Linked DNA regions of Homo sapiens: regions 2, 3 and 4 are each linked to region 1. The links come from fine-mapping of genetic effects on plasma protein levels. A gene starts in region 1. Each other region holds a variant in brackets. All regions are shown on one strand. Distances are between the middles of the regions.

Region 1 (8,106 bases):
GGGAAACTGAGGCTCCTGAGCTTAGCAGCCAACCTTTACCATGGGTTAGATACTGTAATAAATGCCTTACATGCTCAATCTCATTCAATTCCCATGACAATTTTATGACTGTTATTATATCTATTTCACAGATGAGAAGACAGAGGCACAGAATGGATTAGATTAAAACAACTAGAAGGTATGAGTGCCAGGATTCAAGTCCAGGCAGTCTGCCCCAGAATTCCCCTCTATAACCACTACACCATAGCACATCGTGAAGATGGGAGGAAGCAGTGGGAACTTGAAAAATGGATTTATTGCAGGGTTTGCTGCAGTATGTGTATCATGTGAGGCCATTTCTATTTCTCTTTCTTTGCCTTCCCAGTTGTTTTTCCCCTGTATGCCACAGTAAACTAGCCACTGTTTTAGCAGCTCTCTTGTTGATTTTTAAAATACCTATTCACTAAATCTTTAAAGGAAACATTTAGCTACTGCAATGGGTGTACATAAGTTGGTTGTGTAATAGGAAGGAAACAAGCCAGGACTGGAGACTTCATTTCTAAAGAAGGATTTTAAAGCAGACTAAGAGTTATTTCCCAGAGCAGGTCATGAAGCAGGAGTCTCTCTACACCCTTTCATTGCTATGACGACAGCCTGCTCCTGCTACATGCAGCCAGAAAAAGCAGCTTACATTTCAATGCTAGGAACATAGGGGAGAGGTTTACAAAAACACCAAACAAAGACAAAAAAACAAAAAAAAGACTCTTTCACTTGAATTTCAGTTAGAGAGGAAAAAATATCCCCTGGAGCAAGTCAAAAGCCCTATTCTTGCCTTTAGAAGAGATAAGAAAGAAGAAATGTTGGGGGCTTTCCCTCTTGTCCAAGTGGGCCAATAAAACAGAATTGACAGCAAAGCAGCATTTCTTCTCACTCTGTGTAATGGCAAGCTGGCATAGAACACTTTCTTTGGTTTCCTTTGACTTGGCCATTAAGAAGCTACTAACTGATGCAGCAGTGAAGTCTCATAGTAATAAATACCTCGTGTTGAGGCCCCCCACCAGGGGAAAATAGTAGTGTCCGATTTACTTTTACATTTCTTTGGATAAAAAAGGCAATTCAAAGAATATTTCCTTCTTGATCTCCATTGTTACTACCAGAGAAATCATTGCAAGTATGTAACAGAGGCCTCACTGATATACGAGATTCCTTATGAGCAACCAGTCAACTTTCCTATGTGTTTACTTCTCTGCCAGGTGCTATACTTGGCATTTAATAAACATCACATTTCATTCCTACAACGACCTCATTTGTGTGTATTATTATCCCCATTTTGCTAAACAGATGAGTAAACTGAGTCATGCAGGTGGGAAGTAACTGCCAAAGCTTACACTGATTGTAAGAAGCAGAGTCAGGATTCTAGCCCAGATGCATTGGACTCTGAAGCCCATGCTCTGTCCACTCTGCTGTGCTGCCTCAGAGGCATACACCTGGCATTCATATTTTATTATAGAGCAAAACGTATAAGTACAAGGAAGAAACCCTGAGAAAATATCTAGAGTCAGTTCCCGTTCTACGGAGTTTCAATAGGGACATATAGTTAGTCCAGTACTTTCATATTATCTACGATTGATTGATTGCTTTAATGTACCAAACATGGCTCTTTTCTTCACTTAATTCTTACAACAAATCTCTGAGGTAGCTACTGATTTTATAATCCCATTTCCATGAATGAAGAGACTGAGGCACAAAGAGATGAAGTTGTTTGCCCAAAGTCACAGAGCTATTTTGTGGTAAAGCTTGGATATAAACCACGGTCTTATATAAACAGGGTCCATATGGTCAGATATAAACCACAGGTCATGGCCTTATTCACTTTATTAGATTGCCTCCCCACCTTTGGAACAATCATCAAGACCATGCACTCTGTTTTTCAAAGTTCTATCCATCTTTTGATGACTAAGACAAAAGCCAGGCTAGCCCTAGGTAATGCTATCATCGCTAACTCAGCCTTTGGCAGAAGATGCCCTGTGAGCCCCGTAAGAAACAGACCCTGGCCTGGTTGGACATCTCTCAGGAAGCCAGGCCTACTGGGAAGTTCTACTGGATTTATTTATGGGGGTCTCCTTCTCCACTGAAGATCATTCTAGAGGGATAAGTGAGGACTATGTGCACTTCAGATCTTCTAACAAGTTGTTTATGCCCTTCTCGGTAGAAAAATGTTCCCAACCAGTTCTGGATATGGTGCTAAACTTAAGTAAAATAGCAGTGTTTAAGTCAACTGAGTAAAAAGAACAGTCAAGAGGAAATGAAATAAATAATGTTTTCAAGTTGTCCAGATGCATCACTATTCATTTTATTTCTGTCATCACTATTATTTTTACTTAGTTGATATGTGAATCTGTGCCATGAGGAGCTACTGGGGATTAAATCTCAAAAGACCTAGGAAGGAAATGCCAGCACTCTAATTGCTCAATGGCTGTGTGAAAAATTCTCTGAAAGAAAAAGGCAAGGTTCATAAATAACATGTGAATATTCTTCTCCAAAATGTGGAAAGTGGCACTAGTTGATTGGACGATAAGTAGATGAAATAAACTGCTCTGCTTTGCTAGATCTTATTAAATGAACAGAAATATTAACTTAAATCTTTCCAAAGAGGGTGTTTTGAATAAAAAAAAAATCATAGTTAACAATAGTCACAACCATCAGGTTTGACTGAGTAAGCTGTGAACTGAAAAAAGCTGGTGTCTACGAGAAAGGGGAGAATAAAAAAAAAAAAGATTTCTGCTGACTTGGACTGAGTGAACATTTCTATTCAATGTGCTTAGGCCCTGGGCCAGAGGAGAGCTCAGATACAATGCCAAGGTGACATATTTAACCTCTTTGCAGATTAAAGGCAGTGCAAAAGAGATACTCTTTCTGCAGTACCTCTTGGTGTACTGTTTCAACAGTATTGATCTGCAGTTAAAAGCATGTTTTTTTTTCTTTTCTTTTCCTTTCTTTTCTTTTTTTCTCTTGCAGAGTGACCTTTAATACCTGGGAAGGATGAATAAGCACAACCTACATTATTGCTTTATTTTAGAAAAGAGAGCCAGAAATGGTAGTACATTATAATATGAGTTACCATAATCTCTTTAGCTCTTTAATTCTCTTCTCCCATTTTTGCTTTTGTAAATAAGACATTATCAAGAATTAGAGAAATTTTAGGTCTATGTGTGAGCATCTTAACAAATGATAGTAGGAGGCAAAAAATAATTAGTTATAAAGCTGTAAAAGGGAACCAAGAAAGGGAAAATAATCGCAATAACTTAAAAATAATCAAACAAGAATATAGTATAAAAGGAGAAATTTTCCTACCTTTTGGAAAAGCAAAAAGTTCCGTTTCTACATTGCTGTTAGGCTCAGGAGATTGAATAACTTTAGATAATTTAAACATGGAAAACATACAAATTATTTGATTTGAAATTTTTTTTAAAAACTACCTTCTTTATAGTTTATTTCATATATGTAATAAAGTACTTCTACAAAACACATTTCAGGATTCAGGCTTCACTAAGATCTGAATGCTACTGAGGCGATCAACAGTTCCACATTTCTATTCTTGGTCTTCACTAAAATCACCATCATTTATTAGTACTTGCTATTTAATTTCGCAGGAAACAAGAAAACATGAATACAAATGGTAAAATTCTCTATGAAGTATCTTTTCTGTAAATCACACAAAACTTTTTTTGGTAAATAAATGGCTTTGTATTATTTAGGCAAAAATATTTGACAGCTTTATCAGATCACGCAAATCAGCTTAACAAATGCAATTAGATAATGCCGTAAATTTATTACAACTTACCTTTAAGTAAGGGGCTGGACCCAGAGCCACTGCAGAAAAATTGAAGTTGAATCCCCTCTGCACACAGACAGGGAATAAAAGTTTGACAAACACCCAAGAAAAACTCTTTAAATCCCTTTCCTCGTTAGCTCTGCTTCTTTGCCCAGAGGCATATTCAAGTCTACTGGAGTTGAAATTCTGCTGCTCTGTCAACTAGTGGGGGTCTGAAGTGACAGACGAGAATTTGGAGGTTGGCACCAGAGAGTATTTCAGACTGTCATCGTTTTTGTTGCAGATTCCTGGATTTCCCTAGCAGGCTGGCCTCTCATGCGAGGGCTTTACAGGCAGTGCTTGCAAACCAAAAGGGAAAGAGCTAATTCTGGTGGCGTGGATGGGGTTAACAGTCTTCCCCTCAAGCTCTTGTTCTCAGAGCCTCATAACTTGGCCAGAATATAAGCACTTGGCTCTTTATGCATTTTTTTTCTTTTTCAAACAACTCTGAAAGGTTTTATAAGCAGCATCCCTTTTTTGGAGATTTTTATTTTAAGACCTTGAAAAGAAACTCCATGCTGTTGTTTCTTTCTAAAGGAAATTGGGGAGTAGGGATTAAAGGAGGGAAGAAGAGAAATGGCAGCAGATGCATTTTTACGTTGCTCAATTGGAAATTGTTCTAGCAAATACAGTCTGAATTTTAATAGAAGGGTACTTCAGATACCTTAACCTTCTTTGAATGAGATTTGGAAATGGACATATATAAAAATGATTGCTCCTTATATTATAGATCACTTGTATGCTGATTCAGAAATGTTGCAGTTCTCCCCTCAACACAGCTCTCCACTGTAACTCCATGGTTATAATGGTTGGTATCTAAGAAGGAGGTTTCCCATAAAAAGAATGGAGGTGTGCACTTATTTTTGGCCCGGGATTCTGGTTGTTTGTATGTGTCTAATCTCTTCTACTGCTACTTCTACATTTATCACACATTTATTATGTGTCAGACACTGTGCTAACAGCTTTTTATGCGTTATTATCAGTTGATCCTCACTACGCATGGTAAGTTTTACTGTGTTCCCATTTGAGGGGTAGTGTCATACAGTGGTTGGATTGGCAGAATTTGAGGCCAGCCAGCTTGGATTTGCATCCTATCTTCACCACTTCCTAACTATGACCCGGGACAAGTTATATAACCTCTCTAAAGCATCAGTGCTTTTATCTATAAGACAGGGATATACATATGGAAATGATGATAATATCTATCTCTGCAATTGTTCTGAGTTTTAAGTTAGTTAACATGATAAACTGCATAGAACACCCCTGCCACGTAGCAGACACTCAATAAATGTTAGCTATTATCATTTACATAAGAGGAAACCAAAGCTTAGTAAGGGTGTTTTTTCTAGGGTATCCAACTGTAACTTACAGGATGGGATTCCAAATCAGCTACCATGGCTGACAGCCACACTTGTGTAACTTATCTATAATCCCTCTATTATGTGATATAGACACATATATATATCATACCTGCTTCTGAGAAAGCTGTAAACTCCTTGAAGGAAGGGGATGTGCCCTTTCTGCATTCTCCTGGTGCCTAGCACAGTGCTTTGCATCCTGTAAATGTTCCATTATCATCAGATGAATAATTATAATTTAATTTAATTTAATTTAGATTTTCTAAATGCATGCCAACGTCTGGCCAAAAGCAAAAACACTGACAAAAACAAAATAAAACCAAAATAAACCAAAAACCCCCACCTACATTTCTAGGCAAATATGCCCTCAGCCAAATCTCTCAAAACACTTTAGAATTATTTGCCCTATTTATTTTCAGAACACTGCAAGAAAAAGGTAACAAGGATTATCTCTACTTTGCAGTTGGAGAAATTTGGGAGCAGAGGAAACTGGGCACTTTGCCTAGGAGCCAAAAACAAGTCACGGTGCAGCTGGGAACACTCACGTCTCTAGAATCAGGATAACTTGTTCCAAACCGCCTTTCCCAGGACAGCATGAAAGGACTTGATGTCTTTTTGCCTCAGACAATAGGATGTTTTTCCTTAGCCAAGGTCTAGGGGTTGAGCAATCTCCTCGGAGGAAGGATAAAGGGGTGGGCAGTGTTTGACCATGCTTCTCCCTGGTGTGCACATCCTCTGTGCACATCTGCTCTGAGAAGTGTGGAAGACACAGACCATTTTTCCAAGTCTCCCAAGGGGCTTGGGAGCAGTGAGACTATTGCAGAATAAGTAAGAAAAGCATTTCTGAGGATTTGGCCTTAGTTGGCTAAAGAAAATTTTCTTGGGGACCCAAAATATTAACTTCTTATTCTAACTAGCATTCCCCATTTATTTAAGATGGCTTTGTAAGATTGATTTCAGGTGATTACATCAATTCAACGAGAATGTAGAAAAAAATTTCATTTAAAGGGCTCTGGAAAAAAAGTTACCCGACTAAAATTTTTTTCTGCTAAAATTGATATTTTATGCTTCTGTAAAATGATCAAAATAAATTTTCTTATGTAACTGTGTTAACCTAAAAAGTAATTACTTAAAGCAAACTGGATTCATCTCTTAAATGTAAATAGGTACCTAGAGAGTTCATTTGTAGGTGGCAAAGCTTGAGAATTTTGACTTTCAGTTTTATTGGAGGTCTTATTAATTTATAACATGATTAATAAAGACCCACTGTATTTCTTACAACAAAACAAGAGAGAAAAATGAATAAAAAAAGGCCTTTGAATTCGCGGTGTCTTTTCAGTATAGCTTTATTTGGAAATGTTTGTTGGCAGATATTCAAACTCTCATTGTTTCTGAAGCTGTTTTTTCTAAAATAGTTTACAGTTCAGAAAGCTGAGGACAATAAACCTGCAACAATACTCACCTAACAGATGGAGCTACAGATCAGATTTAGAAAACGTATGAGACGTCCAAATGGGTTGGGAAAAGTTTGACAAAAAGCTCATTATGTTACTGTACATGAAGAGACGTAACATCACTGTTGGTCAGAGGATGTGACAGATGTCAACATCTAAATGGATTTTCTTTTTTCTTTTTTTTTACCTTTTAGTGTTAGGATTCCCTTTGAGAATCTGATGAAAGCTGTGGGCAAGCTCCTAAAACCCATCTATGAAACTCCCCCCCAGTATCCTCTCAGGGATTCTATGAAGTTAAAAACCCCTAATTCAGGGGAAGGAGCAGAGAACACGTTAATTAATCCTCAAGCATATACAGAACTTCTTTGTTACATATAGCAGAAGCCTCTGGGTGATATCAAAGATGTACTTCCTGCCTATTAGGAGTCCAAGAGCCAAGGCATATGCTCATTGTCAGAGGTCACATGATTCTTTTGGAATAGTGGAGATCCCCAGGAAGGAGGTAAGTATGGGTGAGTGAAAAAGCTGCAGTAAAAACAGAGTGTCTGTATTGATCTTGGCCAGGACCTGGCCTGTAGGACCCTCTTCCTTGATTACCCAATGTATTAGTTTCCTAGGGCTGGCGTAACAAAATACCACAAATTGGGTGGCTTAAACAGCAGAAATTAATTTTCTCACAGTTCTGGAGGCTGGAAGTCCAAGATCAAGGTGCCAGCAGGGTTGGTTTCTCCTGAGGCCTCTCTCCTTGGCTTGTGGATGGTCACTTTCTCACTGTGTCCTCACACAGTCCTTCCCCTGGGCATGTGTGCTTCTGGTGTCTCTGCCTCTTTTTATAAGGACGCCAGTGCTGTTGGATTAGATCCTCACGTTTACGTCTTCATTTAACCTTAATTTACCTCTTTAAAGGCTCTGTCTCTAAATATAGTGACAATGGGGGTTAGAACTTCAATTTATGAATTTTGGGGGAAATAATTCAGCCCATAACACCCCATTACACTTAAAATATTTTTCCCATTATGTTTTTAATACCTTGATATTTAGTTCTCTGTGGGTCTTGCTTCTGGGACCCATCTTGAGGTCTCAATTCCAGGTGAGTTACTGATCTCTGCCTGTGGAATTTCCTTACCCCCACAGTACCATCATAACTTGACACTGAACAATTTCAGATCTCTCAGTTCTGTGTTGATTATTAACCCTCTGGGTCATTTTCTGACTATGGACTCTTGCAGGAGTTTATTCTAGCTATCCTTTCCCAGGCCAGCCCTTCTATGGGTTTAGTCATACCCTCTATTTGGTCTTAGGCATAGGCTTGATACACAGAGAGCAATTAACGAGTAAGACAGTAGCAAAATGTGCACAATATTTTGTTAAATATAATGTGGACATTATTATGTTACACATTACACATTATGTTTATACATTACACATTATATTTCACAAA
Region 2 (8,106 bases), 110 kb before region 1:
TGATTCTCCTGCCTCAGCCTCCTGAGTAGCTGGGATTGCAGGCAGCCACCACCACGCCCAGCTAATTTTGTATTTTTAGTAGAGAAGGGGTTTCACGTTGGTCAGGCTGGTCTTGAACTCCTGACCTCAGATGATCCACTTGCCTTGGCCTCCCAAAGTGCTGGGATTACAGGAGTGAGCCACTGTGCCCAGCCTCCTTGATTATTATTTTTATTTCTTTCCTACCTCAGATCTTTTTTTCAAGGTACAGTCTTATCTGCCTTGAATGCTCTTTTCCTAGCTTTTTCAATGACTGGCAGCTTCATGTCCTTAGGTCTCTGCACAAAAGTGACCTCATCAGAAAAGACATCCTTCCCCTGCAATCTAAAGTAGTCACTTCTCCCTCAACTATCCTGTCCCTCAGCAGTTATCTATTTCCTTCACAACAATTTTCCTAATCTGGAATTCCTAGTTTATTGGTTTACTTATTAATGTTTATTTCCCTCTCATATAAAGTAAGCTTCATGAGAGTAAGACCTTGTCCATTTTGTTCACAACTGTATTCATGGCACCTGGGGTGGTATGCTTGGTAAATAGTATTATTCGTCATTATGGTATAATGTGAATAAATGCAAACCTGAAAGAGGAAATCCTTTAAGATGGATCCCACGTGGCTAACAAATTTTAAACAGAGCCAAGTGGCCATTTGCCTACTAAAGGTCACCCACATACTCTGAGTTCACTGAAAACTCACACCTCTATTGAACTTTGGGATTTACAGAGCTCACCTGAACCAACCAATAAGCTCAGCTGTGCCAACCAATCAGAATTAAGCTAGCTTGAATCCCTCATTTGTGTAAACAGACCTAGTTAGTAATCTGGGTGGCAATTTTGGTTATAAAATCCAAACCGTCTCTCTGTTCTCTGGAGCACACTTCTGTTTTATACCAAAGGCTGTGTTTCCCTGGTTTGCAAACTGTTCACTGGAATAAAGTCTCTTTCCTCCAAATTCCTTTTCAGAGAATGTTTGTTTACAATGACTAAATAAATGCAGAAAAAAAAAAGAGAATGTGTTAGGCCATTCTTGCATTGCTATAAAGAACTACTTGAGGCCGGGCACGGTAGCTCAAACATGTAATCCCAGCACTTTGGGAGGACAAGGAGGGCAGATCACGAGGTCAAGAGATCAAGATCATCCTGGCCAACATGGTGAAACTCCATCTCTACTAAAAATACAAAAAATTAGCTGGGCATGGTGGCATGGGCCAAGTAGTCCCACCTACTCGGGAGGCTGAGGCAGGAGATTCGCTTGAACCCAGGAAGCAGAAGTTACAGTGAGCTGAGATCGCGCCACTGCACTCCAGCCTGGTGACAGAGTGAGACTCCATCTCAAAAAAAAAAAAAAAAAAAAAAAAAAAAGAATAAAAGAAAGAAATACTTGAGACTGGGTAATTTATAAAAAAAAGTGTTGTGGGAAGTCAGGGACCCTGAACGGAGGGACCGGCTGGAGCTGTGGCAGAGGAATAAATTGTGAGGATTTCATGGATATTTATCAGTTCCCAAATAATACTTTTATAATTTCTTATGCCTGTCTTACTTTAATCTCCTAATCCTGTTATCTTCGTAAGCTGAGGATGTATGTCAACTCAGGACAACTGTGATAATTGTGTTAACTGTACAAATTGATTGTAAAACGTGTGTTTGAACAATATGAAATCAGTGCACCTTGAAAAAGAACAGAATAACAGCGATTTTTTAGGGAACAAGGGAAGACAACCATAAGGTCTGACTGCCTGCGTGGTTGGGCAAAAAGAGCCATATTTTTCTTCTTGCAGACAGCCTATATACAGACGTGCAAGTAGGAGAGATATCACTAAATTCTTTATCACTAATATTCCTAGCAAGGAATATTAATATTAAGACCCTGGGAAAGGAATGCATTCCTGGCGGGAGGTCTATAAATGGCCGTTCTGGGAATGTCTGTCCTATGCGGTTGAGATAAGGACTGAGATACGCCTTGGTCTCTGGCAGTATCCTCAGGCTTACTAGGATTGGGAAACTCCTTCCTGGTGAATTTTTGGTCAGACTGGTTCTCTGCTCTCGAACCCTGTTTTCTGTTAAGATATTTATCAAGGCAATATGTGCACTGCTGAACATAGACCATTAACAGGAGTTCTGATTTTGCCCTTGTCCTGTTTCCTCAGAAGCATGTGATCTTTGTTCTGCCTTTTGCCCTTTGAAGCATGTGATCTTTGTGACATACTCCCTGTTCATACACCCCCTCCCTTTTTGAAATCCTTAATAAAAACTTGCTGGTTTTGCGGCTCAGGTGGGCATCATGGTCCTACCGACATGTGATGTCACCCCCGGCAGCCCAGCTGTAAAATTCCTCTCTTTGTACTCTTTCTCTTTATTTCTCAGCTGTCTGACACTTATGGAAAATAGAAACAATCTACGTTGAAATATTGGGGGTGAGTTCCCCCAATAGAAAAGAGGTTTAATTGGCTCACGGTTCTGCAGGCTGTACAGGAAGCATGGTGCTGGGCATCTGCTTGGCTCCTGGTGAGGCCTGAGAAAGCCTACAATCATGGTGGAAGGCAAAGGGGAGCTGACATTTTGGCGAGAGTGGGAGCAAGAAAGAGGTGGACAAGGTGTCATACATCTTTAAACAACCAGATCTTGCATGAACTCACTATCACAAGGATAGCACTATCACAAGGGATCCACCCTCATGACCCAAACACCTCCCACCAGACCTCACCTCCAACACTGGGGAATACATTTCAACATGAGATTGGAGGGGAGAAATATCCAAACTATATCAGGGAAATAGTTGGGATTCTGAATTACTCTTACTTTTAACATACTCATCAATTCTAATAATCACATATGTCACTTTCCTATTTAAAAATTCTCATTTCTCAGTGTTCTTGGTCTGTCTCACCAACTATTGCAAGATGCCCTTGAAGTTGGTATATGCTTCATAAATTTTTAAAAAGTCCTTACTTCTCCTTAAATTCTGATGACATCTGTTTAACTAATTTAGGATGTGGGTAATTTGATGAGGAGATGTTTTGTTTCTACCCAAGAGCAGGTTGCAGAACATGCACTCACTACACCTGAGCAGATGTGCAGTATGCATCCCTGAAGGGAGGAACCCAGGAGATCTGGCTGTCCCAGCTAATTGCAGTTTTGTTTCAGTGCCATGGAATTGGTTTTGTTTGTACAGTTGTTTGCACAGGTTCATCAAACTAAGTTCACGCTAGCCTCCCCTTAGGGAATATGGAGTTATAAGACTAGGGTCTGAGGAGCTTCCTGTGAGAACTACTTTCTGTTGCTCCCTTTCTTTGATTGTTGACTTTGTAACTCACTGCTTTTCTCCTGTCTTCTCTAGTGACTAATTTGTCAACAGACTTTGGACACGCTGAACTTGATGAACAGAGCCGGTCTAATACATTTCCAGTTTAAGCAGTGATTAACAACACTGAGAGCAAAGTTTATCTGACCAGAGGAAGCCGAGTACTGATATTTATCTTTAAAATGCACATTTCAATAATAGTACTTCTCAACCTGAGAAAGCAGTCAAAATAAACAAAGCTGGACACTAGTTAAAGCAGTAAGGACAGACTTTATTCAGTGATGCTAGTCCAATAGGGAAAAGAGTGTAATACAAACTAATCCCACACTTCCCTGAAACAAAAGGCTGTGGTATGCAAAAAGGAAAGGCACAAAAGGATCTTAAGTTTTGGGGGGTGGCAGGGGGGCACGGTGGTTTGTTGATTGATGTGATTAGGCCATTTGGGTTTGTTAACTGGCTCTTATCCAGAGGAGAAACAAACTTCTATCTTTATGATAGGAGGCAGTGGTGCTAGCTAAAGCAAGGTACCGGTCTTGTACAGGGACTAGGAGCTAGGGTGAGTTATCTTTCTGAATATTTGCATTTCAAAGAGATGGCTCCCAAGTCTTTGAGGAAACTGTGTTGGGTGGTAGACTTACATCACCAAGGGTAGAGAAACAAGCTTTCTAAAGTGACTGCTCTAAGAAGGGGTTCAGGGACCTATCTGCCTATCATCAAGTTTTGGCTGGAACAAA[C/G]AGTAAATTCTCCAGGCATTGAGTTTTGATTTCAGGGAAGCATTTTAACGGGATCTGGGGTCAGCCTAGGGACAAGGCCTTAAGCTACTGGAAGCTATGCTAGAGTATAATCAAATCTCTCAGTGCCGAGAAAAGAACTTTTATATGAGGAAGGTAAATCCTTTTAAATTACCAGGCCCAGAGAGACATTAAAATGAGACAGCAATTACATCCTACTCCCCACTTTGTTATGCATTCATCTCTTTAAACTGCTTACTATAGCCACAAGTAGCTAAAAATTAACCTAATAATGGTACACTGGACACTGTAACTCGCACCCTATAGCTTAACGTATAGCCAACCACTAACCAATACTATTTCTACAAACCAGTAATTCTTTACAACTTTGTATCAGTCAACTCCCTGTCCCCTTTTTGCCTTTAAAAACCTGATTGTAACAAAGGTGGACAGGAGTTCACATTTAAGGTTACTTGGGTCTGGGTCTTCTGGGCAGCTGTCCTCACTTTGGCTAAAGTAAATGCTTTAAGTTCTATCTCGTGCCTCAGCGTCTAGGTTGACAGTGTAGTTTGAACAGTCAATACCTGTCGAGAGTTCTGCAGTTTTCAGAACAATGGTTGTTAAAATTCGATTAATCTGGCTTTTAAGATGGTCAAAGTTTTGTAACGTCGGTGTATTGGAACCACACCACAGAAACAGCGGATCATGTAAGTAAAAGTCAAATAGTTGCCACATCAATAAGCTAATATAAATGAAGTAAGCCTGATTACAAGCTGCTTTGGACAGTCTGGGTTTCCAACTTTGTTTGTCGGTTTGTTTAATTTTTGCCTCTCAAGTTTATTATCCAGTATTATGTGTGTTGCCCTCTGTTCCTCCTCCAGCATGTGTGCCTATTTTCACAGCTTTTCTCCTCCACGAGTTTCCAAGGGCCACAACTGGTCCTAGCAAAGCCTTGTGAATGAAATCCAGCAATTGGAGCAGACAACTTGGTTAAGAAAACAAAAACAAAAAACCAAGAAACCCTTCAAGATACGAGGGCTGAGTCTCTGGACTATCTCCTCTTGCTGTAACCGCCCAAGGGGTTCACCTTTCCCGCTTCCTAGACAGAGCTGATTCATCAAGACAGGGGAATTGCAATAGAGAAAGAGTAATTCATGCAGAGCCAGCTGTGTGAGACCGGAGTTCTATTATTACTCAAATCAGTCTCCCTGAGCATTCAGGGAGCAGAGGTTTTTTCTTTTTTTTTTTGATACGTAGTTTCACTCTTGTCGCCCAGGGTGGAGTGCAGTGGTGCGACGTTGGCTCACTGCAACCTCCACCTCCCGGGTTCAAGCGATTCTCCTGCTTCATCCTCCTGAGCAGCTGGGACTACAGGCGCGTTTACCACCATGCCCAGCTAATTTTTGTATTTTTAGTAGAGACGAGGTTTCACCACGTTGGCCAGGCTGGTCTTGAACTCCTGACTGCAAGTGATCCCGCCTCGGCCTCCCAAATCAGTCATAATTTTGCAAAGGCGGTTTCATTCCCATAACGAAGTATTATTCAAAAATATGGCTAAGACCTGCGTCCTTCCGCAACAACTTACTCCCTAAAAAAACCAGAGCAGGGCCAGGCGCGTTGGCTGAGGCCTGTAACCTCAGCACTGTGGGAGGCCCAAACAGTTGGATTATTTGAGCTTGAGAGTTGGAGACCAGCCTGGGCAACATGGCAAAAATCTGTCGCTACAAAACATACAAAAATTAGCCAGGTATGGCGGTGTGTGCCTGTAGTCCCAGCTACGTCGGGGGCTGAGACAAGAGACTCGCTTAAGCCCAGGAGGTTGAGGCGGCAATGAGCTGAAATCGCGCCCCTGCACTGCAGCCTGGGCGACAGAGCCAGACTCTTGTCTCAAAAAACAAAAACCAAAAACCCAGGGCAGCAAGTCTCTCTCAAACCCCTTGGCTTCTTTCCCACTTATTCCCGTTCCAGTTCCTCGTCTGTTTCACCTTTCCTTTCCTCTGACACTTTCTTGGTAGTTCCCTGCGTCCCCAAGTAAGCCTGCGCAGACTGGGAAGTCTGGGAAGTCGGAGAAGGAAGGCGCTACCAAGCCGGCAACGCACGACCTTTGCTTTGCGGCGCGGCCGTAAAGCGCCATTACGCAGAGAGAAAGTTACGAGGTTCGTGGCCGCGGTTTCCCCAGGCAGCTGGCGCTGGAGGCTTCGGCGTCACGTGCTGGTCTGGATTTTTCTCGATGCACTGGGGAAAGCGGTGGACTCTTATCGTGGGAGGGCTCTTGATCTGTGATTTATAGATAGGCACAGCTACTCCCGTTCGGGAACCCAACGGCAGACAGGTCCTAGTGCCCATCAGATACCCGCGGCCGGGACTCGGAGCTGTGGGGTGTGGGGAGGCGGAGGCACCAACTAAGAGCGACCTAGCATCGCAAAGCCGCCCTCGGGGCGCTCATGGCGGGACGCCTCCTGGGAAAGGCTTTAGCCGCGGTGTCTCTCTCTCTGGCCTTGGCCTCTGTGACTATCAGGTCCTCGCGCTGCCGCGGCATCCAGGCGTTCAGGTATTCCACCCTCCTACTACCGGCTCCTTTGCCCTAGACCTTGAGTTGGGGGTGGGAAGCAGCTTTTTTTTCTGGCGTATTCTGTAGGCTTTGCTTTGCCTCTCGGGTTTTTATAGTCATATACAAGTTTTCAAAAAGGCTCTAAAATATTTTATCTGCCTTTTGAGGAAAACGAGTGGCAGGGACCCTTCTTGACTTCTGATTTTGAAATTTGCCATTCTCTGTAAATCATTGTTAGTATCACGAGAGAGTTTAAATAGCAATTGTTTGGGGTGGTGGTGTCCCGTGCCATTTTTTTATGGTTAATACTTAAAACATTATTATTAGTATTAATACATGTACATAGTTAAAACAACTTGAAAATGTAAAATGAAAAGTAAAATCACTATTCCCCCTGTCCCCTTTCCAGGGTGGACAATATATTATATTTACTATCTACCTCCTTTTTTTTAATAATTTGTCTATTGTGGTTAAATTTAGGGATTTATGGTGTCTTACACTGCCTCCTTCTGTTCTTCCCTTCTCCAGTTTTTATTCTTTGAGTTAGTAAACACAGGGTCCTAGGTGCAGCAGCCTTTTCTTATTTTATAGATATTAAAAGTCTTGAATCTACAAAGATGATAATTAGAAAAATCTATTTCCTAAATAATTTACTTACTGTTGGTCAATTGTTCTGTGTCTTTTTGGTCCTGTTTCCTTCTGTTGCTTTTTCTCGAACATGTGATGGGCACTGGTTATCTGTCTATATTTTGATTAATATGAGTAATAGGTCTTGTTTTCAGTACATGGGTCGCTAATTGACTTTTGGCTCTGTACCAGGTTGCCTAGATAGGAAGGTTTCAGTTGAGGGCATGTGAGCAGGTACCAGATGGGTAGACTGGGAACCTGCCTTTTGCTTCAGGCTTTGCAGTAGTGGTGGAGCAACTTCTCTGCTGAGTATAGCTGTTTATTTCCTCCGTGTGAACTGTAAAATTATTAAGCCTAAGTTTCTGCTGTGTACTCTTAACACCAGTATTCACAGTAGGGGTCCTACCCCTTCATTTCTAAAAAACTTTTGATTTTATCTTGGAGACAAACATAACTATTTTGGACTTTTTGCTTGGAGATTGGGGAGGGAGGAGGACTGAGTGATTTCCATGGTTATTGTCGCGCTGCCAGTTTATGATCCTTGGGCCCACTGACTTCAAGCTTGAAACCTCTAGCTCGGCTCAGCTTGTAGGAATAGCATTTCTCCCTAATGCGTTTTTTTTTTTTTTTTTTTTTTTGAGAAGGAGTTTCGCTCTGTCGCCCAGGCTGGAGCGCAGTGGCGCGATCTCGGCTCACTGCAACTTCCGCCTCCTGGGTTCAAGCGATTCTTCTGCCTCAGCCTCTTGAGTAGCTGAGATTACTGGCGCGCGCACGCCCGGCTAATTTTTTTTGTATTTTTAGTAGAGACAGGGTTTCACCATCTTGGTTAGGCTGATCTGGTCTTGAACTCTTGACCTCGT
Region 3 (8,106 bases), 43 kb before region 1:
GTTTGGACTGACTAGATCAATGCTAAATTTATATTAACTTTGCTCAACCAGAGCTTGCTCTAGGTAGGAATTGAAGAGCCCTAATTCAGGCCACTGACCATTGGGAAGAATGGGGCGGTTTGGTGGTGTCTGAAACCTTGTGGCGTGAATGGTGACATCTATTATTCTGTTAAGCCACATGGGCTAACCGGGCATGGGGAAGCATAGTGGGCTTTTGCCAGTATGCAGAGGTAGGTAGCCCCCCCACCACGTCTTTCTTCCTCATGCCCTGTAGACAGACATTGAAGAAGCTAACCTGTGGATAACTTACTTTATTTCTCTGCTTCTCATTTAGATAACCAGCGTGTTCAGAGTTGGCTTCATAAAGCTGCATGAGGATATTCTTGAGCCAGTCTCTCATCCGTAGAGGAAACTGAATCACTTCAAAGTCCGTACAAGTAGGAATAGCTGTTACAAGCAGAAAATGTACTGTAATCTTTGGGCTTATTTGTGTCCTATGGCAAGTCCTCATAATAGGAAGCTTAACGACTTCTGGCAACTGACAGAGCTTTCTCAGGTCCCCATTATTATGACAGTGGTCCTCAGCCCTGGCAGCAGCACAACAAAATTGCCTGGGGTTTTAAAAAACATACCAAATGCCAGCTTCCAATCAAGTAAATTCTGATGTGATTGGTCTGGCGTGAAGTCTGGGCATCAGGATGTTTTTAAAGCTCCAAGATCTATTTGGATGTGCAGCTAGGCCCCAGAATCACTGCTGTAGAATCAGAGTTGAAATTTGTAGGTGGAGGGCACAAGTGCTATTGAATAGAGAAAAAGGTAGCTATTAGCTGATACTACAGTAAGAAATAATGCTAAATCTCAGTGGCTTAAAGAAACAGAAGTCAATTTTGCAATCCTGCTACAAGTCCAATACAAGTTGGCAGGAGGGCTCTGCTCATTGCAGTCTCCCCAGAGCTCAGGATCACTGCCGTTTTTTTTTTTTTTTAATTATACTTTAAGTTCTGAGATACATGTGCAGAATGTGCAGGTTTGTTACATAGGTATACACATGCCATAGTGGTTTGCTGCACCCATCAACCCATCATCTACATTAGGTATTTCTCCTAATGCTATCCCTCTCCTAGTCCCCCAGCCCCTGACAGGCCCTGGTATATGATGTTCCCCTCCCTGTGTCCATGTGTTTTCACTGTTCAACTCCCACTTATGAGTGAGAACATGCAGTGTTTGGTTTTCTGTTCCTGTGTTAGTTTGCTGAGAATGATGGTTTCCAGCTTCATCCATGTCTCTGCAAAGGACATGAACTTATCCTTTTTTATGGCTGCATAGTATTCCATGGTGTATATGTGTCATATTTTCTTTATCCAGTCTATCACTGATGGGCATTTTGGTTGGTTCCAAGTCTTTACTATTGTGAACAGTGCTGTAATAAACATATGTGTGAATGCATCTTTATAGTAGAATGATTTGTAACCCTTTGGGTATATACCCAGTAATGGGATTGCTGTATCAAATGGTATTTGTAGTTCTAGATCCTTGAGGAATTGCCACACTGTCTTCCACAATGATTGAACTAATTTACTCCCACCAACAATATGAAAGCGTTCCTATTTCTTCACATCCTCTCCAGTATCTGTTGTTTCCTGACTTTTTAATGATCGCCATTCTAACTGGTGAGAGATGGTATCTCATTGTGGTTTTGATTTGCATTTCTCTAATGACGAGTGATTATGAGCTTTTTTTCATATGTTTTTTGGCTGCATAAATGTCTTCTTTTTGAGAAGTGTCTGTTCATATCCTTCACCCACTTTTTGATGGGGTTGTTTTTTTCTTGTAAATTTGTATCTGTTCCTTGTAGATTCTGGGTATAAGCCCTTAGTTAGATTGACAGATTGCAAAAATTTTCTCCCATTCTGTAGGTTGCCTGTTTACTCTGATGATAGTTTCTTTTGCTGTGCAGAAGCTCTTTAGTTTAATTAGATCCCATTAATCAATTTTGGCTTTTGTTGCCATTGCTTTTGGTGTTTTAGTCATGAAGCCTTTGCCCATGCCTATGTCCTGAATGGTATTGCCTAAGTTTTCTTCTAGGGTTTTTATGGTTTTAGGTCTTATGTTTAAGTCTTTAATCCATCTTGAGTTAATTTTTGTATGAAGTGTAAGGAAGGGATCCAGTTTCAGTTTTCTGCATATGGCTAGCCAGTTTTCCCAGCACCATTTATTAAATAAGGAATCCTTTCCCCATTGCTTATTTTTGTCAGGTTTGTCAAATATCAGATGGCTGTATATGTGTGGCATTATTTCTGAGCCATCTGCTCTGTTCCATTGGTCTATATATCTGTTTTGATACCAGTACAATGCTGTTTTAGTTACTGTAGCCTTGTAGTATAGTTTGAAGTTAGTTAGCGTGATGCCTCCAGCTTTGTTGTTTTTGCTTAGGATTGTCTTGGATATATGGGCTCTTTTTTGGTTCCCAACTTTAAAGTAGTTTTTTTCTAATTCTGTGAAGAAAGTCAGTGGTAGCTTGATGGGGATAGGATTGAATCTATAAATTACTTTGGGCAGTACAACCATTTTCACGATATTGATTCTTCCTATCCATGAGCATTTGTTTGTGTCCTCTCTTATTTCCTTCAGCAATGGTTTGTAGTTCTCCTTGAAGAGGTCCTTCACATCCATTGTAAGTTGTATTCCTAGGTATTTTATTCTCTTTGTAGCAATTGCAAATGGGCATTCACTTATGATTTGGCTCTCTGCTTGTCTGTTATTGGTATATAGGAATGCTTGTGATTTTCGTACATTGATTTTGTATCCTGAGACTTTGCTGAAGTTGCTTATCAGCTTAAGGAGATTTTGGACTGAGATGATGGGGTTTTCTAAATATGCAATCATGTCATCTGCAAACAGGGACAATTTGACTTCCTGTCTTCCTATTTGAATACGCTTTATTTCTTTCTCTTGCCTGACTGCCCTGGCCAGAACTTCCAATACTATGTTGAATAGGAGTGGTGAGAGAGGGCATCCTTGTCTTGTGCTGGTTTTCAAAGGGAATGTTTCCAGCTTCTGCCCATTCAGTATGATATTTGCTATGGGTTTGTCATAAATAGCTGTTATTATTTTGAGATATGTTCCATCAATACCTAGTTTATTGAGAGTTTTTAGCATGAAGGGATACTGAATTTTGTTGAAGACCTTTTCTGCATCTATTGAGATAATCATGTGGTTTTTGTCATTAGTTCTGTTTATGTGATGGCTTACACGCATTGATTTGCGTATGTTGAACCATCCTTGCATCCCAGGGATGAAGGTGACTTGATTGTGGTAGATAAGCTTTTTGATGTGCTCCTGGATTTGGTTTGCCAGTATTTTATTGAGGATTTTCGCATCCATGTTCATCAGTGATATTGGCCTGAATTTTTTTTTTTTTTTGTATATCCTTCAGGTTTTGGTATCAGGATGATGCTGGCCTCATAAAATGAGCTAGGGAGGAGTCCCTCTTTTTCTATTGTTTGGAATACTTTCTGAAGGAATAGTACCAGCTCCTCTTTGTACCTCTGGTAGAATTCAGCTGTGAATCTGTCTGGTCCCCAGCTTTTTTTGGTTGGTAGGCTATTAATTACTGCCTCAATTTCAGAACTTGTTATTGGTCTATTCAGGGATTCAACTTCTTCCTGATTTAGTCTTGGGAGGGTATATGTGTCCAGGAATTTATCTATTTCTTCTAGATTTTCTAGTTTATTTGTATAGAGGTGTTTATAGTATTCTCTGATGGTAGTTTGTATTTCTGTGGGATCAGTGGTGATATCCCCTTTATCATTTTTTATTGTATCTATTTGATTCTTCTCTCTTTCCTTCTCTATTAGTCTGGCTAGCTGTCTATCTATTTTGTTAATCTTTTAAAAAAACCAGCTCCTAGGTTCATTGATTTTTTGAAGGGTTTTTCGTGTCTCTATCTCCTTCAGTTATGCTCTGATCTTAGTTATTTCTTGTCTTCTGCTAGCTTTTGAATGTGTTTGCTCTTGCTTCTCTAGTTCTTTTAATTGTGGTGCTAGGGTGTCAATTTTAGATCTTTCCTGCTTTCTCTTATGGGCATTTGGTGGTATATATTTCCCTCTAAACAGTGTTTTAGCTGTGTCCCAGAGATTCTGGCCCATTTTGTCTTCATTCTCATTGGTTTCAAAGAACTTCCTTATTTCTGCCTTAATTTCGTTATTTACCCAGTAGTCATTCAGGAGCAGGTTGTTCAGTTTCCATGTATTTGTGCAGTTTTGAGTGAGTTTCTTAATCCTGAGTTCTAATTTGATTGCAGTGTGGTCTGAGAGACTGTTATGATTTCCATTCTTTCACATCTGCTGAGGAGTTTTTACTTTCAATTATTTGGTGAATTTTAGAATAAGTACAATGTGGTGCTGAGAAGAATGTATATTCTGTCAATTTGGGGTGGAGAGTTCTGTAGATGTCTATTAGGTCTGCTTGGTCCAGAGCTGAGTTCAAGTCCTGAATATACTTGTTAATTTCTGTCTTGTTGATCTGTCTAATTTTGACAGTGGGGTTTTAAAGTCTCCCACTATTATTGTGTGGGAGTCTAAGTCTCTTTGTAGGTCTCTAAGAACTTGCTTTATATATCTGGGTGCTCCTATATTGGGTGCATATATGTTTAGGATAGTTAGCTCTTCTTGTTGCATTTATCTCTTTACCATTATGTGATGCCCTTCTTTGTGTTTTTTGATCTTTGTTGGTTTAAAGCCTGTTTTATCTGAGGCTAGTATTGCAATTCCTGCTTTTTTTTTTTTTTTTTTTTTTTTTTTTTTTTTTTTTTTTTGCTTTCCAATTCTTGGTAAATAGTCCTCCATCCCTTTATTTTGAGCCTATGTATGTTTTTGCATGTGAGCTGGGTCTCCTGAATACAGTA[T/C]GCTGATGGGTCTTGACTTTTTATCCAATTTGCCAGTCTGTGTCTTTTAATTGGGGCATTTAGCCCGTTTACATTTAAAATTAATATTGTTATGTGTGAATTTGATCCTGTCATTATGATGCTAGCTGGTTATTTTGCCTATTAGTTGATGCAGTTTCTTCATAGTGTCGATGGTCTTTACAATTTGGTATGTTTTTGCAGTGACTGGTACTGGTTTTTCCTTTCCACATTTAGTGCTTCCTTCAGAAGCTCTTGTAAAGCAGGCCTGGTGGTGAAAAAATCTCTCAGCATTTGCTTATCTGTAAAATATTTTATTTCTCCTTCACTTATGAAGCTTAGTTTGACTGGTTATGAAATTCTAGTTTGAAAATTCTTTTCTTTAAGCATGTTGAATATTGGCCCCCACTCTTTTCTTGCTTGTAGGGTTTCTGCAGAGAGTCCCACTGTTAGTCTGATGGGCTTCCCTTTGTGGGTATTCCGACCTTTCTGTCTGGCTGCCCTTAACATTTTTTCCTTCATTTCAACCTTGGTGAATCTGACAATTATGTGTCTTGGAGTTGCTCTTCGTGAGGATTATCTTTGTGGTGTTCTCCGTATTTGCTGAATTTCAGTGTTGGTCTGTCTTGCTAGGTTGAGGAAGTTCTCCTGGATAATATCCTGAAGAGTGTTTTCCAACTTGGTTCCATTCTCCTCATTACTTCCAGGTACACCAATCAGATGTAGGTTTGGTCTTTTCACAGAGTCTCACATTTCTTGGAGGCTTTGTTTATTCCTTTTCATTCTTTTTTCTCTAATCTTGTCTTCATGCTTTATTTCATTAAGTTGATCTTCAATCTCTGATATCCTTTCTTCCACTTAATCGATTTGGATATTGATACTTGTGTATGCTTCACGAAGTTCTCGTGCTGTGTTTTTCAGCTCCATCAGGTCATTTATGTTCTTCTCTAAACTGGTTATTCTGGTTAGCAATTCCTCTAACCTTTTTTCAAGGTTCTTAGCTTCCTTGTATTGGGTTATAACATGTTCCTTTAACTCAGAAGAGTTTGTTATTACCCATGTTCTGAAGCCTACTTCTGTCACTTCCTCAAACTCATTCTCCATCCACTTTTGTTCCCTTGCTGGCAAGGAGTTGTGATCCTTTGGAGGAGAAGAGGCATTCCCATTTTTGGAATTTTCAGGCTTTTTGTGTTGGTTTTTCCTCATCTTCATGGATTTTCTGCCTTTGGTCTTTGATGTTAGTGGCCTTTGGATGGGGTTTTTGTGTGGATATCTTTTTTGTTGATGTTGATGCTATTCCTTTCTGTTCATTAGTTTTCCTTCTAAGAGGCCCCTCTGCTGCAGGTCTGCTGGAGTTCACTCAAGGTCCATTCTAGACCTTGTTTGCCTGGGTGTCACCAGCAGAGGCTTCAGAACAGCAAACATTGCTGCCTGTTCCTTCCTCTGGAAGCTTCGTCCCAGAGGGGTACCTGCTAGATGCCAGCCAGAGCTCTCCTGTATGAGATGTCTGTCGACCCCTGCTGGGAGGTTTCTCCCAGTCAGGAGGCATGGGGGTCAGGGACCCACTTGAGGAGGCAGTCTGTTCCTTAGCAGAGCTTGAGTGCTGTGCTGGGAGATCTGCTGCTCTCTTCAGAGCTGGCAGGCAGGAACATTTAAGTCTGCTCTGCCCACAGCCGCCCCTTCCCCCAGGTGCTCTGTCCCAAGGAGATGGGAGCTTTATCTATAAACCCCTGACTGGGGCTGCTGCCTTACTTTCAGAGATGCCTTTCCCAGAGAGGAAGAATCTAGAGAGGCAGTCTAGCTACAGTGGCTTTCTGGTGCTGCCGTGGGCTCCACCCAGTCCGAACTTCCTAGCAGCTTTGTTTACACTGTGAAGGGAAAACCGCCAACTCAAGCCTCAGTAATGGTGGATGCCCCTCCCCCCCACCAAACTCAAGCATCCCAGGTCAACTTCAGACTGCTGTGCTGGCAGCAAGAATTTCAAGCCAGTGGATCTTAGCTTGCTGGGCTCTGTGGGGGTGGGATCCACTGAGCTAGACCATTTGGCTCACTGGCTTCAGCCACATTTCCAGGGAAGTGAACAGTTCTGTCTTGCTGGCATTCCAGGTGCCACTGGGATATGGAAAAAAACTCCTGTAGCTAGCTCGGTGTCTGCCCAAATGGTGGCCCAGTTTTGTGCTTGAAACCCAGGGTCCTGGTGGTGTAGGCACCCGAAGGAATCTCCTGGTCTGTGGATTGCGAAGACTGTGGGAAAAGCGTAGTATCTGGGCCAGAATGCACTGTCTTTCGCAGCACAGTCCCTCACAGCTTCCCTTCGCTAGGGGAGAGAGTTTCCCGATCCCTTGCAGTTACTGGGTGAGGCAACACCCCACCCTACTTTGGCTCCCCCTCTGTGAGCTGCACCCACTGTCTAACCAGTCCCAATGAGCTGGGTACCTCAGCTGGAAATGCAGAAATCACCCTCTTTCTGCGTTGATCTCACTGGGAGCTGCAAACCAGAGTGGTCCTTATTTGGCCATCTTGCCAGCCACCAATGACGTTGCCATTTTTTGAGGCCACTATCTCAAAGAGAGTTTGTGGTGGCAAAGGAGCAGAGGATGGAGAACCATACCCCAGCTCTTGAATGCTTCTGCCCAGAACTCACATAGATGACTTTTTTCACATTTCCCTGGACAAAGCAAGATATATGGTCATACCTAACGTCCAGGAGGCTGACATGTTTCATCCTCTCCTGTGTCTGGAAGGGGAGGAGACCCGGAAACATTAGTGAGCACTGCTAATGTGGAGAATCACTTAGTGGTAAGGGGAGCCAAACACAATTGAGAATATCCTGGGGAAGGAAGACAGCCTTAAAACACTTCTGGAAAAATGTGTTGTCAGAGACTTCTTGGCAAAGGCTTAACTTAAATTGGGAAGAGGGCAAATAATGTAGCAAAATTCCAGTGATTCAACTCTGTGATTAAGTGGATAGCATTATCATAGTGGTTCTGAGCCCTGGCTGCACATTAGAATTGTCTAGGTTACTTCAAAAACAAATAAAAAAAACAATGTCAGGATTCCAACCTAGTTCAGTTAAATCAGAATCTCCTACGGTTAAGGCCTGAGAGTTCTTATTTTTTAAGTTTCTCCAGTTGATAATTTTTGTGTTCAGAACTACATCAGCTTTTCCCTGTTTGCATATAGATAATTCAGGCATGTCCAGA
Region 4 (8,106 bases), 18 kb before region 1:
ATTTCCCTAAATCTAAATGTAGCTGAATGAATCAAAAGGAAAGAATGTCCAGTTGGCCAGAACTTGCATCACTAATCCATTTTTTTTAAATTCATTCATTGAGTACTTACTAGACACTGCCTAAGCACAAGGACACATAGTTTCTCTCTTAAGAGTTTCTGGGTGTGGAAAATCTCTAACTGCTTTTCCTGTGGTCTCACACCACGCTACAATCAACACAGAAGACTTCTGTGACCAAATGTGGGAGATTTTTTGTCATCAACATGCAAGCAATCAACTCTGCAGCAGGCACCAGCTGAGTGTCCTCCAAATGAATTCTGACACTGTGTACCTGGAGATAGCGTCAGATCCCATAGGTTGAGGGCTCAGTCTCACAAGACATCTTCCCTTTCCCAGATACCAGTCACAAGATCAGGCCTCCAGAACTTCTGGCTGACTGGTTTCAAGTTGGGCTTCCATGACTCCCTCTTGGGGTTCGATTAATTTGCTAGAGTGCATCACAGAACTCAGGGAAACACCTACTTAGATTTACTGGTTTATAATAAAGGATATTACAAAAAGATACAAGTGAAGAGATGCAAAGGGTGAGGTATGGGGGAAGGGGCACAGAGCTGCCAAGCCCTCCCCGGAACACACCCTCTAGGAACCTCCATAGGTTCAGTTATCTTGTAATTTCTTCAAACCTCGTCCCCTTGGGCCTTTTATGGAGACTTCATGAAAGGATAGGCACCATTGACAACCACATAGAAATGTGTTTAGACAAAAAGGGTATGCTTTAGTACTCAAAGGCTGAGTGGGGAAACCCGGTAAGGCCCATCTGTTCAGATTCTTTTTGGCCTCTTTTTTTTTTCCTTTGAGGTGGGTCTCACTCTGACTGTGAGGCTGGAGTGCAGTGGCGTGATTTTGACCTCCTGGGCCCAAGCATGCTCCCACCTCAACCTCCCAAGTAGTTGAGGTTACAGGTGATTGCCACCACACTTGGGTAATTAATTTTTTTTTTTTCTGTAGAGACAGGATCTTCCTATGTTGCCCAGGATGGTCTTGAACTCCTGGGCTCAAACGATTGTCCCATCTTGGCCTCCAAAAGTGCTGAGATTACAGACATGGATCACTGTGCTGGGCCTCTTCTTGGCCTCTCCATGCAACATTCCTTCCTCCAGAATATGGGGCAGAACCCCTTCTGAAATGGGGGTCTTATGACCTACAATCACACAAGGTAGGTAAAGGCAGAGGAAGATTAGAGTCCTGCCTTGGGGAGAAAAAGTAGCAGGTAAAAAAATAGAAGATTAGAGAGAGAGAAATCCTGTTATTCTGAGGTCCGCTTATGAGGCCTAAAATGCACCAACATTATAACATTATAAAAAGGTCTATGGGAATTATGAGACAGGAACCGTGGATGAAACATATGTGTGTGTGTGTGTGTGTGTGTGTGTGTGTGTATAGATACATATATGTATGTAATGTAGATACGTATATAGATAAATATATACATATATAGATACATGTATATAAGTATATATATATATATATAGTATACATATGTGTATATACTATGTATGTGCACCTGGAGATAGTGTCAGATCCCACAGGTTGAGGGCTAAATGTATACTATATGTGTACATATATAATCTATATACTTATATACATGTATCTATATATGTATTATATACACGTATCTATATATGTATATACTAATAATGTATCTATAAATATATAATATATTTATATAAAATCATATAGTGTAATGTGATGATTATGTACATAATGCAATGGAAAGAGAGATAGGAGGCATTTTTAAATTAGGTAGTTGATAATAGCTAACTTTACTACATCCAAAGTACTTAAGTTCTAGGCACTATTCTAAGAGCTTTGCACACACATATTCTTTAAACCTTCTGAACAGTTCTATCAGGTAAGCACATTATTGTAATCATTTCACTAGTAAGGAAACTCGGGCATAAAGATTAAGTAACTTGTTCAGGGTTACACAGCTAGGAAGTGGCACAGCAGATATTTAACACTTCTGTTTGATATCAGGTCTGTCTGTGTTCTTAACTACAGTGTTCTTAACTACTGTATAGAGATGACCTCCAGAGAAGGTAATTCTTGATCTGAGGTTTGAAAACTAATAAACAGTAGTTAGCTGTATGAAGGATGTTCTCACACAGCTAGATGTACTCTAGAGGGTGGCAGGCAGCAGCATGGGTGAAGTTGCAGAAGCATCGAGTCTCTAGGATGTTAATATTTGGGTCTCTAGGCTGTCAATAGGGGAAGTGGGCTGGGGTAGATAAGGCTCAAAAGTAAGCAGATAGCCATATTGTAAAAGTCATAGTGCATTAAACAAGGAATTAAAAATTCCAGCCATAGAGCTATAGGGACCCAAAGAATTATTGTAAGTGTCTGTGTGTGCACGCATGTGTGTATGTCTGTGTGTGTGCACACATGTGTGGACAGGGGTGATGATATAACCAGATTTGTATGTGTGACAGCTGTGTGGAGGACAGACCAGTAGCATGACCTGTGAGAGACAATTGTAACATCAAGGTGAGGTGGTCAGAGCCTTACATTTGGGCTGTGGTCTTAGGAGTGGAGAAAAGAGGGATAGATCCAACCTGTACTGGTTTGTGAGAGCTGTTTGTTACATTTCAAGACTTTTTTGAGTTGGTTGTTAAAGTCATCAATTAAAAATTAAATTACATACATGTATAATTTAATTATGTTAAAAGCAAAGAAAATAGTAGAAACTCATCACTTCATAATTATTTTACTATTATCTACTCTTTTGAGGTTATTTACATCTATTATATCTGTTGGTGGAAATACTATATAATATGTGTTCCGCATGTCTCTTCCCGATTCTGTTCAGTGGCGTCATGTTGGTAGCTTAAAATTGATAGCAACAGGAGGCAGAGAAACTGTAGGCATACAGGGGCGGGTCGCTGGCAAAATCCCACCTTCAAGCCGAAAAGCCTGAAACCCACAGCCCAAAGTGAGAACTTCCATTCTCTCCCGATTGGTTATTTCTGAATACTGTCTTTTTACCAATTGAATATTGCCTTTTCCAAAACTACCTACGGCCTGCCCCGTCCCCATCCTGTGCCCATAAAGACCCCAGAACTCAGCCAGCAGAGGGAAGAAGCAGCCTGATGTCGAGAAGAAGCGCCTGGACATAGGAGAGAGGTGGCTTGACTTCAGAGGAGAGGGATCTTCCCTTCCCATTCCCTTTCCAGCTCACCTCTCCACTGAGAGCCGCTTTCGTCACTGAAAAAAAAAATTCTCCACATTCGCCATCCTTCAATTCATCTGTGTGACCTCATTCCTCTTGGGCACTGGACAAGAACTCGGACACACTACGTGCAGGTA[T/C]CCAAAAAGGCGGTCGCACTGGCCCTTTGCCCTTGCTGGCGGAAGGCAGTTGCCCTACGTGATGAGGCAAAGGGCTCACTGAGCTGATAACACACTGCTGTCTGCGGACGGTGGAGCTAAGAGTATGGTTACACGCCCTCTGGGGCTTGGCGTGGCTGGTGCCCACACCTGGACGCTGGTGAGGGGCCCACATGGAGTTTGCTCCTGCTGGTGCCAAAGTGGCCAGTTCCTGCCTTCGCTCGCTCAGGTTCCTGCAGTCATTCGCTTGCGCACTCCCTCCTGCAAGGGATTGAGCAGGGCGGGCTGAGTAAACAAGGCACCCCTGCCGCGAGTTCCGTGAAGGGGTCAAGAAAATATCCTGCATCAAAATCAGTTGTGGTGGGAGGATCAGTCACACCATGAAAACCATCAAGTGTCACCCACCTCTCCCTCTCTCAGAGAATGGGTTGCTCATTTACCAAAACACAACTGGATAGTTCTAAGAAATAATTAAAAAAAGAACAGATAAAACTTAATGACGAATTAGATATTGTAGGAATATGAGAAGGAAAAGTCTTGAGTCACATTTCTCATATGAACAACTTAGTAAATGGTGGTATTAATTACCAAGGTGAAGGATTATAGGAGGAAGGTTTGGTTTTAGAAGACAGACGGTGGATTAGTTTTGGGCTTGTTGAATTTGAGTAGAGATATCTAGTAGATACTTGGGTAGATAGGTCTGGAGGTAAGCATGGAGTTTGGGGTTACAGATGTAGCTTGCATGCTGTAGCATGAGCAGTTATTCAACCAGTTGAGCAGAGAGCTGGAGCCAGAACCCTGGGGAGTGAAGATCATTAGGCACCATCAGAGGATGGGAAGAGCTAAAGATACAAACAGTGAGAGAAAGAAGAGTCACATGAGAAAAGGGAAGTGTTAAATGTCACAGAGAGTTCAAAGCAAACAAGGTCAGGAAATTATCCATTGCCTCTGGAAGTGCAGAGGTTATTGAGGATCTCAGGGAGAGCAGTTTTGTTGCTGTGGTGTCGGTGGATGCCAGCCTGCAGTGATTGGAGAATGAACAGGCAGTGATGAAGTGAGGGCAGTGAGTGTAGACCACTCTAAAAATGATTGGCTGTGCAAAGGAGAGTAACGTGGTAGCTTAAAGGGAATATGCAGTTACAGGAAATTTATATTTGTATTTGAATGTGATCATTCAGATTCCTTTCCTTTCCTTTCCTCTTTCTTTCTCTTTTTTTTTTTTTTTGAGACAGAGTCTCACTCTGTTTTCCAGGCTGGAGTGCAGTGGCGTGATCTAGGCTCACTGCAACCTCCACCTCCAGGGTTCAAGCAATTCTCGTGCCTCAGCCTCCTGAGTAGCTGGGATTATAGGCATGCGCCACCAAACCCAGCTAATTTTTTTGTATTTTTAGTAGAGATGGGGGTTTCACCATGTTGGTCAGGCTGGTCTCAAACTCCTGACCTCAGGTGATCCACCTGCCTCAGCCCCCTGGAAGTACTGGGATTACAGGCATGAGCCACCATGCCCGGCCCCAGATTTCCCTTCTGTGCTGAAGGGAAAAGACAGGTAAATAAGGAAAAATTGAAGATAAAGGGTAAGAGAGGAGATAATGGTAAACAATGATGACCCCCAGTAAACCACAACTTCTGGGCTTCATTTCCCTATGATGTGGGCCTTAACCTTGTGATTTGCTTTGACCAATGTGACATTAGCAAGCATGATGCCAGCAGAAACTTGGTAAACCTTTGCACATTGGAGTTTTTCCTCTTGGTGGAAGCTATCAGCCATGCTGTACAAAAGCTTGACCCAGACTATTGAATGATGAGAGACCATGTGGCTGGAACCTTGCAGGATAACAGACCCTCCTGGATGATTCAGCCCCAGATGTGTTCCTAGCTCACTGAAGCCAGATGAATTAACTCCAGACAAAATCAGCAGAAGAATCATGCAGTGGAGCCCAATCCAGATTGGAGAATTATGAGCAAATACAGGGATGTGATTTTAAGCCATTTAATGTGAGAGCATACTGTTTTACAGCAACCGAAAACCAAAATAAGGCAAAACAGACCAGTTGCCAAAACCATTAGCAAGACAATATTTCATAACAATTAAAGGCATAAGTTCTGAAACAGGATGTCATAGGCTGTAATACTTAATTTGCGTAAATAAGCAAATTGTGTAGCTTTTGGGGGCTTCAGCTCATTGTCTATAAAATAGTATGAAGATTAAGTGAGACAATACCATCTTGGTAAATCCTGGATACATATTTACTGGTCTACTATTAAAGCACATGTGAAAGGTTTAACTCCAAAGAGAAGGAGGAACTCTTTATTCTTTAACACAAAAGGGAGGAAAGTTTAACTGTAAGGATGTCTTGAGGCAGGGTTCCAAGGAATATTAACTTATTAAGATGGATTTAGTTATACATTCCTTGTATTTATTTAGCATTTCACAGTTTATAAAGTGTTTTCTTATATACTGTCTCATTTGATTCAATGAAGAAAGGAGGGACAGAATTTTTAAATGTAAAGAAACAGAAATTTGAAGAGTCTAAATTATTTGGCCAAATGTACAAGGCTTAAGAGGTGGGCAAGAATTAGAAACGCTGAGCTTTGGACTCAGTATCCAATATTCTCCCCAAACAGACTAGTGAACAGGCTACAGACTAGAAGCCAGAAGTTCTGGCTTTGGGCCCTGGCTTTGCCAAGTACTAAATACTACCTTGAACAAATTACTTTCTCTCTCCAAACTTCATATATAGGATGGGAATACCAGTTCCTTCCGATGTCAAAGGTAGCTCCTTGCAAGGTGAGGTGAGGAAGCTCTTTGCAAACTCTGAAGTACCTTACACATGCAAATGATTATTATTTTCATTGTTCTGCCTGCTGCCTGTCATCAGTAATATCATTAGAGTCATTTATATCTTGTATTAACTACATATGTCTTGTATTAAGTGTGATATAAGGGAAAAGAACCTTAGTGTTTCTCCTCCCCTTTTCCGTATCTTCCTCCCCTAGGGGATTTCAAGCTTCCCAGGAGCTAGTTCCAGAACATATTTACTTTTAGTTCACTCATTAAACACAAACTCACCTATCCTATATTCTATACTTTTAAATCTTTGTTTTTTGCATGCATCTAAACCATACCGAGGAAATAGGAATATTCCTGAATTAGGGCTGGGCATTGTGGCTCATGCCTGTAATCCCACCACTTTGGGAGGCTGAGGCAGGCAGATCACTTGAGGTCAGGAGTTCGAGACCAGCCTGTCCAACATGGTGAAACCCCGTCTCTACTGAAAACACAAAAACTAGCTGGGCGTGGTGGCATGAGCCTGTAATCCCAGCTACTTGGGAGGCTGAGGCAGGAGAATTTCTTGAACCCAGGAGGTGGAGGTTGCAGTGAGCCAAGATTGAGCCACTGCACTCCAGCAATAGAGTGAGACTCCATCTCAAAAAAAAGAAAAAAGATTATTCCTGAATTAATGTATTTCTATTCTCAGGTAAGAGGTATGTTCACATTGTTCTTAACCCAAAAAGAGCTATCGAATGCTGAGAATCCTGGCGTAGCTGTATGGAAGATATTTTAAGGCATAGAACAAGTCTAGGGATTGTCATATAACCTCAGATGGCCACTTGTGCAGGCTTTTTGAGAGCCAACATTTACTGAATGGTCCCTGATTTTTACTGAGTCCAAAGATGGAACTATTTTTTAAGAGTTTTTTTCCATCCTGTAATTGAAAACAAAATTTAAACGCAGAGTATGGTCATGTCATTTAGAATGATCCAAGCAGGAAACCCCTTCAAGTTTCAATTATAAAGAAGATGCCTGTGTTTTATTTTTGAAGGACCTTGTGGGACAATCCAGTATCTAGACTTTAAAACGCCTTGTGTTCTTCCATTGTGTTCCACGTTGTCCTTTAGACTAGTCACTGGGCATTTTTGTCTCACTGAGCTAATTGTATTTGCCACATATTGATCAAAAATAATTTCATGGCCTTTAGCTTCTTATTTTAAGAACTGAGCAAATGTGCTGATTGTATAAATAAGACAGAATGGAGAACTTTCCTGGGAAATGAGAGATATTTTGAAAACAACTGTCATACTGAAGACTCAGGGAGGCTTAATTAGCTGATGCTTGCAAAGTACTTTGAAAAATCAAAACCATGATGTCCTTGCTAAGTATGATGAATACCATTTATTCTTGGATGAGTAAAAAGTCATTTATTTTGAGACATTCGAGTTTGGTGTGCACTGACTACAAAATACAGATTATTTTTGCAGAAATAGAAAATAAAACTCCAGATGAAAAATGCAAAAATGAGACAAATTTTGGAATTCACAGAATTATTATTCTCAAAGACTTAAATATGCAGTATTGATGTGAAACTAAATCAATATTATTTTGCTCAAATGCGTGAGCTTATTCAAAGGCAGCTGCATAGTTTAAAGGACAGTTGGTACGGAACTGGAAGATCTAAGTTCCAGACTTGAACTGCCTTTTACCAGCTAAGAGACTTTGATCAAGTCACTGGTTTCTTCATCTACAAAACAGGAAAGGTAATATTACATTTTCTTATCTATCTTCTGGAGTTGTTTTGAGATTCAAATGTGATCCTATAGTTATTTGGTAATTTCACCAACTGTAAAAATGAAATGAAAGATGTTATCATATCTTTGAAACATGCATAAGGCAGAAAATGGCTTAATAACCCCAATAATGAATAATTCAGACACTTTAATTCATCC

Direction of the effects. Alleles are on the strand shown, and positions count from the first base shown. The strength of an association depends on the size of the effect and on how common the allele is.
For the plasma level of the protein whose gene starts at base 4,155 in region 1, G is the low allele of the variant in region 2 and C is the other (strong association).
For the plasma level of the protein whose gene starts at base 4,155 in region 1, allele T in region 3 goes with a lower level than allele C (strong association).
In carriers of allele T in region 4, the plasma level of the protein whose gene starts at base 4,155 in region 1 tends to be lower than with C alone (strong association).

What was found. PIP is the chance, under the fine-mapping model, that this variant and not a neighbour inherited with it causes the effect. Protein levels are from antibody-based Olink assays in UK Biobank. Linkage for the fine-mapping came from a reference panel and not from the study's own genotypes, which makes the PIPs less certain.
Region 2: its variant is fine-mapped to the plasma level of the SPARCL1 protein (UK Biobank, PIP above 0.99).
Region 3: its variant is fine-mapped to the plasma level of the SPARCL1 protein (UK Biobank, PIP above 0.99).
Region 4: its variant is fine-mapped to the plasma level of the SPARCL1 protein (UK Biobank, PIP above 0.99).

What each region holds. Positions count from the first base shown.
Region 1 is chr4:87,525,222-87,533,327 of GRCh38, forward strand. It overlaps SPARCL1 (SPARC like 1), which reads right to left and starts at 4,155. Exons shown (of 11, transcript NM_004684.6): 1 at 3,824-4,155. LOC124900729 (a long non-coding RNA gene) reads left to right here. Exons shown (of 2, transcript XR_007058171.1): 2 at 132-1,274.
Region 2 is chr4:87,416,394-87,424,499 of GRCh38, forward strand. NUDT9 (nudix hydrolase 9) reads left to right here and starts at 6,180. Exons shown (of 8, transcript NM_024047.5): 1 at 6,180-6,619. The coding sequence starts at 6,513. RefSeq lists enhancers at 5,949-5,998, 6,068-7,002, 7,546-8,049, 8,050-8,106. The variant C/G (reference allele first, on the strand shown) is at 4,072.
Region 3 is chr4:87,482,114-87,490,219 of GRCh38, forward strand. SPARCL1 (SPARC like 1) reads right to left here. Exons shown (of 11, transcript NM_004684.6): 8 at 311-447. Among named protein-coding and RNA genes, the nearest start is that of SCPPPQ1, 15 kb to the left of the region's middle. The variant T/C (reference allele first, on the strand shown) is at 4,907.
Region 4 is chr4:87,507,377-87,515,482 of GRCh38, forward strand. All of the region lies in intron 1 of SPARCL1 (SPARC like 1), which reads right to left. Among named protein-coding and RNA genes, the nearest start is that of SPARCL1, 18 kb to the right of the region's middle. RefSeq lists an enhancer at 3,509-4,009. The variant T/C (reference allele first, on the strand shown) is at 3,364.